2 linked regions of the Homo sapiens genome follow. The protein of the gene in region 2 interacts with the protein of the main gene of each other region in a biochemical or structural test. Each region holds a gene or a part of one and is shown on either strand. Other genes may lie near its edges. The genes, in order: UBE2B and TRIM45.

The links.
Region 1: the proteins of TRIM45 (region 2) and UBE2B form a complex in vitro, tested with the Homo sapiens proteins (one study listed by BioGRID).

What each region holds. Positions count from the first base shown.
Region 1 is NC_000005.10:134,384,936-134,388,757, reverse strand, and holds part of UBE2B (ubiquitin-conjugating enzyme E2 B), read right to left. Parts: intron 434-3,822; coding exon 345-433; intron 1-344. UniProt on the Homo sapiens protein: E2 ubiquitin-conjugating enzyme that accepts ubiquitin from the ubiquitin-activating enzyme E1 and transfers it to a E3 ubiquitin-protein ligase. In vitro catalyzes 'Lys-11'-, as well as 'Lys-48'- and 'Lys-63'-linked polyubiquitination.
Region 2 is NC_000001.11:117,111,562-117,115,383, forward strand, and holds part of TRIM45 (E3 ubiquitin-protein ligase TRIM45), read right to left. Parts: intron 1,925-3,822; coding exon 1,798-1,924; intron 893-1,797; coding exon 744-892; 3' UTR 1-743. UniProt on the Homo sapiens protein: E3 ubiquitin-protein ligase that plays a role in the regulation of inflammatory response.

The sequences.
Region 1 (3,822 bases), on a different chromosome or scaffold from region 2:
TTTTTTAAAATAGAATTTCTTGGATGGGGTAACATACTCAATGCTTATCTACACTTGGCAGTTTCTTTAGGTTCCTATGGTTTTTCCAAGCCATTTTTTCTTTTCCACAACCCTTGGCTATGCTTCATGGACACAAATTAGGTTTGACCTGTGAGAACATGTAACTTACACAATCAGGAAAGGGACTGCAGACTGGATCCCAAGTAGGCACTACTGAAAGAGAAAAGTTAGCTGAAAAGCATGGATTCTTGTCCAAGCTCTGCCATTGGTTACCTGTGTGCTAAGGAGCTGACTATATCCTACAGAATACTGACAAATTATAATACATCCTAACACACACTTACCTGAATTGATGTTAAGATAGAAGATACATCATATGTTGGACTCCATCGATTCTGAAGGATATCTAAACATATGCTACCATCAGCATACACTGCAAAGACAATACTAAAATTAGTTACACACTCTGCCATATCTAACAGTTAAGAGAAATCTTTACCAAACAGAATGCTTGGCTTAGAAGTTTTAAATATTAGGTAATAACTAAATTCTTCTGTATCACAGGATAACCTGTCTTAAAACTAAGGTCTCTTATTTTGCACCTGCTATGGTTTGAATGTTCCCTCCAAATCTCATGTTGAAATGTAATTGCTGGAGGCTGGGCACGGTGGCTCACGCCAGTCCTGAACACTTTGGGAGGCCGAGGCAGGCAGGATTGCTTGAGGTCAGGAGTCTGAGACCAGTCGGGCCAACACAGTGAAACCCCATCTCTACTAAAATTATAAAAATTAGCCGGGCATGGTGGCACATGCCTGTAATCCCAGCTACTTGGAAGGCTGAGGCAGGAGAATCGCTTGAACCCAGGAGGCAGGGGTTGCAGTGAGCTGAGATCACACCACTGCACTCCAGCCTGGATGACAGGGTAAGAACCTGTCTCAAAAAAATAAAAGTAAAAAAATTAAATAAAAAAAAATTAATTGCCATTGTAACACTGTTGAGAAGTGGGACCTTTAAGAAGTGCTTAGGTCATGAGTGCTCAGGGCAGGAGTGTACTCCAGATAAAAGGATGAGTTTGGCACCTTTTCTTATGTCTTGTGTGCTCACTTGTCATTCTGCCTTCCACCATGGGATGTCACAGCACCAAGGACCTTGCTTAGGTGCTGGCGCCATGCTCTTGGACTGCCCAGTCTCCAGAACCATGAGCCAAACAAACTACTATTATTTACAAATTTACAAATTATCAGTCCCTGCTATTCTGTTGTAGCAGAAAATGAACTAAGACAGCATGTTATGATCAGGAGGCTTTGAGTTAAATTTCTTCAACACACATCATTTAGCAATCTATTTAAATTCCGTATTTCTAAATATTCTTAAAGCTTTTAAAAAACTGCTTATTTTTGACATAGCAATTACACTCCTAGAAATTAAGGAAATAAACGTGGACATGCACAAAGATTTACTTACAGGATGTTCACTATAATACTACTTATAAGAGTAGAAGGCCAGGCGCAGTGGCTCACACCCATAATCCCAGCACTTTGGGAGGCCGAGGCGGGTGGATCATGAGGTCATGAGTTCGAGACCAGCCTGGCCAGCATGGTGAAACCCTGTCTCTACTAAAAATACAAAAATTAGCCAGGCATGGTAGTGCATGCGTGTAGTCCCAGCTACTCAGGAGGCTGAGGCAGAAGAATTGCTTGAACCCAGGAGGCAGAGGTTGCAGTGAGCTCAGATCACGCCACTGCACTCCAGCCTGGGCGACAGAGCGAGACTCTATCTTAAAAAAAAAAAAAAAAAAGTGAAAAACTAATTCTACCTTGTGGTCCATAAAAGAGGGAACTGGCTAAATAAACAACTGATACATTCATATAAGCAATAGCAACACAATCACCAGAAATGATACATATCTACTGTTTATAGAGTAAGACATCCACAGACTATTACCTTAAAAATAAGTTTTTAATTATTTATAATTTCCTATTTTGATTAAAAAGTTTTATATAAATTCATTTAAAGTATATGTAGTCAAAAAACATTTCTAAGACCGAATGTCAAAATGTAAGTAGTGGATATTTGTAATAGTAGGGTTATGGATGATCTTATTTTCTTTTCCTTTTTTTTTTTTGAGATGGAGTTTCGCTCTTGTTGCCCAGGATGGAGTGCAATGGTGCAATCTCAACTCACTGCAAGCTCCGCCTCCCAGGTTCAAGGGATTCTGCTGCCTCAGCCTCCCACGTAGTTGGGATTACAGGTGCCCACCACCACGCCCAGCTAATTTTTGCATTTTTAGTAGAGACGGGGTTTTGCCATATGTTGGCCAGGCTGGTCTCGAACTCCTGACCTCAGGTGATCCACCTGCCTCGGCCTCCCAAAGTGCTGGGATTACAAGCATGAGCCACTGTGCCCGGCCCTTTTTTTTTTTCTTTTTTTGAGATGGATTCTCAGTCTGTTGTCCAGGCTGGAGTGCAGTGGTGAGAACTCGGCTCACTGCAACCTCCACCTCCTGGGTTCAAGCAATACTCCTGCCTCAGCCTCCCGAGTAGCTGGGATCACAGGCATGTACAACCACGACCCAGCTAATTTTTGTATTTTTAGTAGAGATGGGGTTTTACCATGTTGGCCAGGCTAGTCTCGAATTCCTGACCTCAGGTGATCTGCCCACCTCGGTCTCCCAAAGTGCTGGGATTACAGGTGTGAGCCACAGCGCCCCCAGCAGATGATCCTCTTTTCTTTTTCTTTTTTTTTGAGATGGAGTCTCGCTCTGTCACCCAGGCTGGAGTGCAGTGGCGTGATCTCGGCTCACTGCAACCTCCGCCTCCTGGGTTCAAGCAATTCTCCTGCCTCAGCCTCCCAAGTAGGTGGGATTACAGGCACACATCACCATGCTTGGATAATTTTTTATATTTTTAGTAAAGACGGGGTTTCACTATGCTGGCCAGGCTAGTCTCGAAGTCCTGACCTCGTGATCCACCTGCCTCAGCCTCCCAAAGTGCTGGGACTACAGGCGTGGGCCACCGTGCCTGGCCTATCTTATTTTCTTTATCCTTCCTTGTGTTTATGATTTATTTGTGCAATGAGTATACATATTCCTTTCATTAAAAAAAAAAATCAAGTGACTAACAGGTATCAAAAGTCCTGAACATCTGGGAGGGTTCTTCCCTTTTTAGACTGATTCTGTGAAAATACAAGCAATGAACGTTAAGTATTTGCCCAATTGTGAGACTATCTGTAGAAAAAATTTCTAGAAGTGAACTGCTATGTAAAACAAAGAGTAAATTCATTTAAATGTTACAGATACCATTTCATGGAGCAAACCATAACAGAGAGTGGGGAGCAAATCACACTTAAACACTGTGATTCTTCCAGACTCTATCCTAAGCCCTTTTCCTTCTTACCCTTTACACACACACTGGGCAATCCTATTGACTCCTGTGGCCTCAGTTACCATCCATGTGCTCAGTATTCCCAATCATTGGCCTTAGCCTAGATCTATCTCTCAGCTTCAAAGCCAACTTACTGTCCATCCCACAGAAACATCAAACTTAGCTGCCCAAAGCAAAAATTAGTAACTCTGTAAAACCCATAAAAGTGTAAAACAATTTTAAAGTTCTGAGTAACTATTTCTGAGAATCCAAAAGTAAATCAGAACTCAAATATCTTATCAACTAATGAACAAAATACAGAATATCCATACAGTGGAATATTATTCAACAATAAAAAATGAATCACAGATACTATTATATCACAACATAGATGAGCCTTGAAAACTTTATGCTGGGTGACAGAAGTCAGTCACAAAGGACCACATAGTATAAGATTCCA
Region 2 (3,822 bases):
GCTAACAAAAAGTGGACAGGATGAAAGGAGGTTTCTAATCTCTAGGGGAAATATCTAAATAATGTGTAGCTCAGAGAAAAATGAAAAAGGTCATAATAGGCCAGGTGTGGTGGCTCATGCTTGTAACCCCAGCACTTTGGGAGGCCGAGGCAGGTGGATCACGAGGTCAGGAGTTTGAGACCAGCCTGGCCAACATGGTGAAACCCCGTCTCTACTAAAAACACAAAAATTAGCTGGGTGTGGGGGAAGGTGGGGGGGAACCTGTAATCCCAGCTACTCGGGACACCAAGGCACGAGAATCATTTGAACCGGGAGGCAGAGGTTGCAGTGAGCCGAGATCATGCCACTGCACTCCAGCCTGGGTGACAGAGTGAGACTCTGTCTTTAAAAAAAAAAAAAAAAGAAAAAAAAAGGGTTATATCAGAAAGGAACTAAACTACCTAGACCCTTCAGTGCCAATGGAATAGATACCTCCATACTGTACAAAATGAAAAGGAGTATCCTGTGGTAGAAAAAGAACGTTGCCAACCTACCTTTAAGAGAAATGTAGAGGTGGTTTTTTGTGCTCAACCATCCACAAGTACAATCAGTGAATAACTAACAAAAGAGCACTTGAACTCCAGTGCAAGATAAGGCACTTTGTTTTTAATTCTATCAGTCTCTTTAGAATGAACGAAGGTCTGGGTCCTCTGGAAATCTCAAGTGGTGCTGCCTGCAGCTTTAAAAGGCTGAGCACAAACCCATCAGAGAGCCACAGTCCTAAGTAGACTCCTCGGTGCGCTCTGCCCACCTGTCCATGTGCATTCAGATTTCTCATTAAATTTTCCACAGCATGACCAGTGGGGATGACCTGGGTGGCCTTTGTGTCCATGGCCACAGCCTAGGTACCCACCTACATGGGACAAAGAGGAAAGGACAAAAATCAACCATTAGCGTGGAGGCCAGCAGTTACCATTATCATGGAAATTAGACCTCCTGGCAACATGCAGATTCATGGGAGTGAAAATATCTAAGAAAATCTTGGCAAGAGGAACAAGCTGTCTGACTGTTGTGCAGTCAGGAGGACCCTGAGAATTGATCACAGCAAATCAACTCATGTTAGCCGGAGTTCTAAGAATGCTGTAGTGATAGAACTTACCACCTGAAGGAGGCGAACTAGTTTGCACATTAACTGTAAAATAAATTGGTTTGGATTTTAACTGTAAAATCATTGAAATAAAAAAGGATAGGTTGGTGGACATTAAAAAAATAGAGGTAGATCCTCAAGTGTTTATACAGAAGGATGCAAAAGCCCATTTTATGGCCCATTATTAGAGTAAGGACACAATAATTTTTTTTTAAAGTAATTAGATCCCTAACCTAAACTGACTCCCTATCCTTTCTGTCCCCCGAAAGACCCAGACCTTGTTCAATTGGTTTAATCATCCACTCCCCTAGCCATGCCTCATTTGGAATTTATTTAAGGTTCTAAAAGGAATAAGATGGGTCCATAGTTTTCACACTGCTTAGGCCGCTGGAAAGGGACAGACAAACTGAGAATCCTACATAGAAGCACAGGGCTCATAGGAGCTGTACCAAAACTAACAGAACTGAGAGCTTTTAAGTCTGCTATTTCAATTCAGAACAAGGAAGCTTTAAGTGACACTTTTAGAACAGTGGTGTCTCTACAATCACAGACTGTGCTTCCTAGAAACAGAGCCTAAGTCCAAATGTCTAGTGGCTGTGTGGTAGGGAAGGGCCCGTCGCTTGATTCCCACTGCTGGCAGAAAGGCCCAGAGGGTAGTGCTTTCTCCTTACCTGGCATGGTGCCTCCACAGGCGCAGCGAGCGGTTTTCTGGCCCCCGCTGGAGCAGAAGGTGCAGCAGTGAAACACGCCTGAGTGTGGGCGGTGCTTTCTCCTCACCATCACAGTGAATGGCGAGCCCTGCAGTGTTCAGACCAAAAGCAATGAACAGCATCTTACGAGTTAACAGGATGTGCTGCGCATCACTATGTGCTAAACAGAGTCTGAGGCACAGGGCCTGTCCTTGGATGGACAAGGACAACAGGAAAGAAACAGATTAGAGGACAAGAACCCTGCTCAGCTGAGAGGAGGCAGACACAGATGCAGTGGAAGCATCACAGGGTCTATGCAGCCCTCCTACCATGCTTTTCACCGCAGATGCTAAGTACTAGACGTAGGTACTGATTTATTCCATGTAGCTGAACCTGCTGGACACTGAAAGGAGTCACACAGTCAGCTCCATTTTCAGTGACATCTGTATTAGCTGGGAATAATTGTTCTGGCAAGATGGCAGCAAAAGCAGAAGCCCATGCCACAATAAGCTTAAGCTTTTCTTGATGGATTCTGCCTCACTCTATCCTTGTATGAAGTATAAGTACCTAGATCATTCAATACATTAGTAATCTCAGACTGACTTTTCTCTGGGATTCTCAATCTCAATTCTTAAGGAACCTCAGGTATAATAAGTAGAATGTCACAACCACAAAGATAGGACATTCTGTGGTCCCTTCTCCAATTTCTCAGCCATGTACCTCTTCTCACATACCAAGCTAGCCTCTTTCCTTCCATCCTGGACATGACTTATCTGTTTACTCACCCACTTATTCTGGGACTGTAAAGACATATGGAAGGGAGAAAGGTTAAAATGTGTACAGCTAATAATTCTCAAATTAGTAACTCTCCCATCTGCCCCCTTTCCTTTAAGGATAACTTTCGTTCTCTAATTTATATCCCATGTTAAACAAAAAATATTTATTTATTTTTTTAAAGATGGGATCTCACTCTGTCACCAGGCGGGAGTGCACTGGCACATCCATAGCTCACTGCAGCCTTGAGCTCCTGGGCTCAGGCAATCCTCCCAAGTAGCTGGGACTACAGGTGCACACCATCATGCCCAATTTAAATATTTAATAAGTTGCAATGTGCCTATCCTTATGTGAGAGCCACATTGTTTGCGAAAACGCAAAACAGAGAACCTAGCACCTTAGAAGTCTTTCAGATGTTAAATTTCCCATCTTAAAGAGTTTACAATCCAGTTAAAAAACAACTTGGCATTCAAAGAAATGGGTTCAAATTCCTATTTTGCTACATTTGCTGTGTATTTTAATGCAAGTTTGGTGTCTCAGTCTAATTGGACACTGATCCCTGTGCCTGAAGGGTTTTGAGGCAAATTGAAATAATGTATGTAAAAACACCTAACCTGTTCCTGACATACCATAATTAGGTAAACAATAAATGGCTATTAAATATGAATGTTCCTTAGTGCACAAATCATAAGCCTAATATATCATGATGCTATATGGTATTTTACTGTCCCTGTCAGTGTTGATTTCTGTGGAGGGAAACCTCTGACTACTCCAATGTCAGCAGAGAGATTCTGCTCGACCTGTTAGTATCACCCAATTTTTAAAAACTCATACTCTCTAAAGCAGAAAGTGCTCTACTTGTGTTATACTTGTTTGTAGAAACCATGGTAACGTAACTTGTTTGGTATATTTGTTTGTTTATAGGAACCATAGTAACAGAAAAACCTATATGTAAAACAGAGTAGAAAATTACATGAGCAGATGGTTAGGCAGATAGATGACTAGTCAATTGTGAGGAGGGGGCATAACCCTCTCAACTGTGTTCATGTCCAGACACAGTCTGGACAAAACTGGAAAATCCTGAGCTAGATTATATTTTTTGAATATGCATGGTTGTCTGCTGGCAGATCACCCCCTGTGATCAAGACATCTTCTCCATATTAAGAATCCTAAGAAACCAACTGGGAGAATGATAAGCTATAAGCATAACTGCCTGGAGGTGACACAGGGATA